2 separate regions of the Homo sapiens genome follow, and region 2 is linked to region 1. Evidence: fine-mapped expression QTL. A gene starts in region 1. The other region holds a variant in brackets. All regions are shown on one strand. Distances are between the middles of the regions.

What was found. PIP is the estimated chance that this variant, and not a neighbour inherited with it, causes the effect. A credible set is the group of variants that fine-mapping cannot tell apart.
Region 2: its variant is the best candidate, but not a certain one, in a credible set for the expression of PKDCC in left ventricle (GTEx, PIP 0.62).

What each region holds. Positions count from the first base shown.
Region 1 is chr2:42,046,826-42,049,732 of GRCh38, forward strand. PKDCC (protein kinase domain containing, cytoplasmic) reads left to right here and starts at 1,196. Exons shown (of 7, transcript NM_138370.3): 1 at 1,196-2,013. The coding sequence starts at 1,375. RefSeq lists enhancers at 1-76, 77-581, 205-324, 1,825-2,084, 2,798-2,907 and silencers at 495-784, 895-1,144, 1,295-1,474, 1,485-1,584, 1,715-1,784.
Region 2 is chr2:41,919,550-41,922,456 of GRCh38, forward strand. No RefSeq gene overlaps it. Among named protein-coding and RNA genes, the nearest start is that of LINC01914, 13 kb to the right of the region's middle. The variant G/A (reference allele first, on the strand shown) is at 1,150.

The DNA.
Region 1 (2,907 bases):
GAGGATCTAGGTGGGCAGTTTCAGAGTGGCGGGGAAGAGGAGAGCTGCGAGGGGGAGGGGCAGCGGCTTATCTCTCCCAGGAGGGGGGAGCTCACTCCAAACAGCTAGTGCACTGGCGTGTGAAAGCCCCTCAATTAGCACTAATGATGCAATCAGGGAGGGAGGAGGAGGGACCGAAGTTCTGGTGGCGTCAGCACCAACTTACACACAAGGTACACATTCCCTTCATCGGACACAATGGCCCCTTCAGACACGCCGAGGCACACACTCCACAGACAGCCGTCCGTGGGCACAAACGCACTCTTTGCCCAAGCTACTAGCATGCACATGGTTTCTTATACGCGGCTGACCCCGTCAGACCCCAGGCATCTTGAGGGGTAGGGAGCGACCCCCAGCTGCATTTGGGGCTTTAGAGGCAAGGAAAATCAGAAACACTTTGGTAAAAGGAGTTGAACAGGGCATCCTCGGCGAGCTCACGAGCATTCCTCTATGCCTAGAGCTCCTGTCCCACGCGCGCTCGCAGGTGCTGGCCCGGCTGTGCCCGCTTCCCCCTCACCATCGCCCCAATCCGGAATCCGGGGCTGAGCGAGGAGCCGCCACCCCCGGCCCCACCCGCGAGAGACGGGGTCCACGCGCCTTCCCTGCGCCCAAACCGCCCCGAGGCCCCCAGTCCCAGGAGGGAGCGCTGAGATCACTCGGATCTCCGCACCCCGGACTTAGCTGCTCGTCCCCTCCGGAGCCCGCTACCCGCCGGCCTCGCCCCTTTATCTTTCCCCCACTCCGCCCGGCCGGCTCCGTTATCCACCTCCCAATCCCGTTATCCGGCCGCCCCGGCCCCGTTATCCGCCCTCGCGTTGGGCGCGGAGCCCCCGCGCGCCTCCTGGCCGCCGCCGCCCCCTCCCCCGCTCCCAGACGGAGCTCGGGGGACCGCGGGCTGGGCGGGACCGCGGGCTGGGCAGGACCGGAGCCGCCTCCGCGCCGCTTCCCAGGCCCGGACGGCCGCGGGAGGAGGTCCCGCTGTCAGTCAGCGGGGAAGGCCGGGCCGGGCGGCCGGAGGGGGCGGCGCCGAGGACGGGCTCGGGCCGGGAGCTGGGAGGTGGAGGCGGAGGGGCGGGGGAGGGGGCGGGGGAGGGGGCGGGGGCGGGGGCGGGGGGCGGCTCTGGGCCTTATAAGCGGCGGGGGCAGGGCGGCAGGGAGGCAAGTGTCAGGCCGATGTGTCGCCCGCGAGGGGCCGGGGTCGGGGCCGCCGGGGCCATGCGCGCGGGCTGGGCAGGGGGCCGGCGGGGCGCAGAGCGGAGCCGCCTCGGAGCCTGAGCCGCCCGGGGCCGGGGCCGGGGAGCCGCGCGGGGCCGGCCGGCCGGGGGGAGGGGAGCGATGCGGCGCCGGCGGGCGGCAGTGGCCGCGGGTTTCTGCGCCTCCTTCCTGCTGGGCTCCGTCCTCAACGTGCTCTTCGCTCCGGGCTCGGAGCCTCCGAGGCCAGGCCAGTCCCCTGAGCCTTCGCCGGCCCCGGGTCCGGGCCGTCGCGGGGGCCGCGGGGAGCTGGCCCGGCAGATCCGGGCGCGCTACGAGGAGGTGCAGCGCTATTCCCGCGGGGGCCCCGGGCCCGGGGCGGGCCGGCCGGAGCGGCGGCGCCTGATGGACCTGGCTCCGGGCGGGCCCGGCCTGCCGCGCCCCCGGCCCCCTTGGGCCCGGCCCCTGTCCGACGGCGCCCCAGGCTGGCCCCCGGCTCCCGGCCCAGGCTCCCCCGGCCCGGGCCCGCGCCTGGGCTGCGCCGCGCTTCGCAACGTGTCCGGCGCGCAGTACATGGGCTCAGGCTACACCAAGGCCGTGTACCGGGTCCGCCTGCCCGGCGGTGCCGCGGTGGCGCTCAAGGCGGTGGACTTTAGCGGCCACGATCTGGGCAGCTGCGTGCGCGAGTTCGGGGTACGGAGGGGCTGCTATCGGCTGGCGGCCCACAAGCTGCTTAAGGAGATGGTGCTGCTGGAGCGGCTGCGGCACCCCAACGTGCTGCAGGTACGAGGGTGGGGACGCGGGGGTAACGGTGTTGGCTGGGAGTGCCCAAGACCTTGTCAACCTGGCTGGAAGAGAACCCCTTGATCTGGAGTGCCAGTGACTGCACCCAGGCTAAGCTAGACGCAGAAACCGGACCATGGCCCTTCCCACTGCACCACCCTGCTTCTCACTCCTGGGTGGGCGTCCCTTTACCGGAGAACTCCTGGGTTTCTCGGCTTCCACACATCTCTTAAAGACAGGCCAGGACAGAGGCTCCCAAAACTCAGGGGGTGGGGCAGTCCATTAGGATTTAGGACTCTACTCCGGGCTGGAGTTAGGAGGTTGAACACCAGGGATATTACCCCAAGCCAAAATGACCCTAAGCCAAGACACTTGAGTCAGAATTCCAACTGTGTGATAAAGTCCCCCTTCTTGATGGAACTTCTCCCAACTTCCAGTGATTTGTCTGGTTTTGAAAATGAGACGGGACAGCAGTGGGGCTGGGAAGAGCTGGAAAGAGACCATGTGTCAGGCTTGATTCCTATAGAGTCTCCCCACCCACCCACCTCCAGCGCCACCCAGAAGACACTGGAAGGGGGCTGGGGAGCAGGCTAGAAAAAGGGAACACAGTCCTTCCCAGAAGTGAACTAAGGGTTCCCCAGGCCTTAAAGTGGGTCCTTGAGCCCCTGGAGAAGCCTGAAGGTCTCAGCTCAGTGGACAGACTGGCGGCCTGAGGATCTAAATGTCACACTGTCTGAGTGTATATAGATAGCCAAGAGGCTGGAAGGTTGAGAAGGCCAAATGCTCAGGTTCCTACTCAACGGGACTCTGCCTCGCCTGTTCACTGGAGACACAGGCGAGAGCTGAAACCCCCACCTTGTCCCCTCCAAGCTAGACTTTGAGTGGGCCTCTCAC
Region 2 (2,907 bases), 130 kb before region 1:
TGTGCATTGTATGGGCTGCTTCGCATATATTTTCTCATTTAATTTTCCCAACAAGGCACAAATATCATTAGCTGCACTTTAGATGTGGAAGGGAGAGAAAGTGCCTTCTCTGAACGTATGAGTTGTTTCTCTTATGGAAAAAGATTGAGGGATAGACCCCCAGGATCCTAAACACATGACTCCTACCCTCCTTATAGCTACCCCCAAAAAGTTCTCCAAGGTTATAAAATGCCCCAGGATGATGACAACAATAACAGTAACAACAACATAACAGTAAATATTTAGTGAGCGCTGAACATGTACCATTCATTATACCATGCCTATAAACACAATGATAACCCCCATTTCACAGAAAAAAAAAACTGGAGATTTATAGGGGTTATGAAATTTTCCCAAATTGAAGCCCATAGAATGACAGAGTTGAAACTGCAACCTACGTAATTTGACTTTAGAACCCAAAAGTGTGACCACCAGATTAATTAGGGTTGGATCCCATGTGACAGAAAAACCTAACAGTGACTTAAATAAGACAGAAGTTTCTTTCTTTCTGAATTAAAATAATGCTAGAAGCTGATGATCTAGGGCTATTTGGCAGTTTCTCAATCCTCTGGATCCAGCTTATCACTCTGTCTAATGTATGTACCTCATCCTCCTGTTCTAAGATGGATGCTAGAGTACCAGCCATCACAACTGCATTAGCAAGATAGAGAAAAAGACAAGTGATCAAACATTACCTGTCTTCTAAGGAGGTTCCCTAAAAACCACCAGTGCTAGGCAAAGAAAAACTTTATTCTAGCTGGGCCTTTGTCCCCACACTCTTATCTCGGTGAGCTGGGCTCGACCAAGTATGAACCCAGGACAGACAGGCCTCAGGCCTAGATTAGGACAAAACAGGCCAATGATCTCACTGTCCCCTTTCCACGAGACCTATATCTTGCCACAGATGCAACAAGGGAAAATAAACAAGTTTCTAGAAGGGATGGGAAACAGAGAGGAAATGGACCTAACTCAGGGGCCCAGCAAACATCTCCTCCCTCTCCCACAGTGTTTTTTGTTTTTGTCTTTTTTTAACAGATGAAGTCTCACTGGGTTGCCCAGGCTGGCCTCGAACTCTTGGGCCCAAGGAATTCTCCCACCTCAGCTTCCTGA[G/A]TAGCTGGGACTACAGGCTTGTGCCACCATGCCCAGCTACCCCCAAGTGTTAAATATGTCTTTTACTAAAGGTGGGAAGACTTTGGGATTTGAACCACGGTTGACTGACCCCAAATCCGATGTTCTTTCCAGTATACCACATCATCTTTTTTTTTTTTTAATCAACATTATCCTCCAGTAGTTATTCAAATAAATACAGGGGCCCATGAGGTCAAGTGGCACAGATGTTTCCAGAGCTAGGGAACTGCTCCCAGGGCCCCTGCCACCCAAGCCAAGAGCCACTCTGCATGGCAATGAGAGCTCATGTCCTGAGTCACTCAGTGATGGAGGGAAGCCTGTAGGACTTGATAGACAAGGATCACTTCACGATGAGTCACATTTGATCCTCACTTGGGCCATGAGAAGAGGGGGACTGCTGAAGTGGGTTTTCTAATTCACTGATGTCTGCATTTTCCTATTAACTATATCCTGTGACAGCACAACAGCCCACAAAATGATGGCAACTTCTTTTTACTCTATAAGGGGCTTGCTTCCTCCTGCCCCAAGATCTTTTCCTGCCAGAGACAGTGAAGCAGGTTGTTTGGACCTCATCACTTGACCTCACGGACATTTGTCCCAGAAAGACATTCGAGCTCACACCTAGTAAAGATGCCCTTCAGGTTTCGTCTTTCCTTCTGTCATTCTACATCATAGCCCCCTACAAAATGTCCTATGGCCAATACGATAATTGGTATGAAAGTCAATTCTTTTTTTTTTTCTGTAATAAAACGTAACTGCTCAATGAATCTTCTCTTCCTATAACATTTACACAAAGCTGAGTTGATTCAGGTAGAAATAATTCCAATAAAATGAAAATGGGAAAAAAAAAAGAAATGTTCTAATGGTATCATTAGAACAACATTAGAAGAAGTAAAAAGCACACTGGTCCCTTTAGAGGAGGCAAAACTTATCCTAGCACTTACCTCTAAAGGAAGTTTCTCACATGGAAGTTCCATGTTCACCTCTAGTGCTTTCGAGTCACCAGCTTCTTTGTGAATGTGATAAAATCTGTTAACCCATTCCCCAGAAAAAAGCACACACAACAATCCAACTACATTTTTCAATTTCTAGAAATTCACAGGCTCCAGAAACCCATCCATAAATCCCAAGTTAAGAATCCCAATCTAGATTACGTGTATGAGAGGTACACTTGCCTCAAACCGTTTCCAGGTGAGAAGGAGGCAGAGAAGGGACTAAGGACTGATGGGGAACAACGTTGGCAGGAATTCCTGAGAAGTGTCTGTGTTGAAATGGGAGCCATCATATGCCTTTAAGCCTTGCCAAACATTCACAATTAGAAATGTATAAACTCTTTCAATGTTTAGTTCTCTCCCTCCTCTGCTTTTTAAATTAAAGACCTATTTTAATATAGCGAACTAATACCAAGGGCTGGTGACAAAGGGAACTTTACCTTGACGCCGATTATTCTTACAGGCTTAGAGTTGGGGTATGAACCACCAAGAAAGCGAGCCTAGAAGTACTGGGCTGCAGGCAAGATGACAAAGACTGAGAATCAAAGCACTCTAATCCTCTGAGTTCATGAACCCCTGGTACGAGGAATGAGAAGGTGCTTGGCTATCAGACAGACATGCATGTGGATATCACTTACTGCCTCCATGATTTCAGCAAGTCATTCCATCTAAGTCATGTGCTCAGTGTCTGGCACATTGTAGATACCAAATAAACAAGGGTTCCCTTAGAGAATTGACACGCCTACTG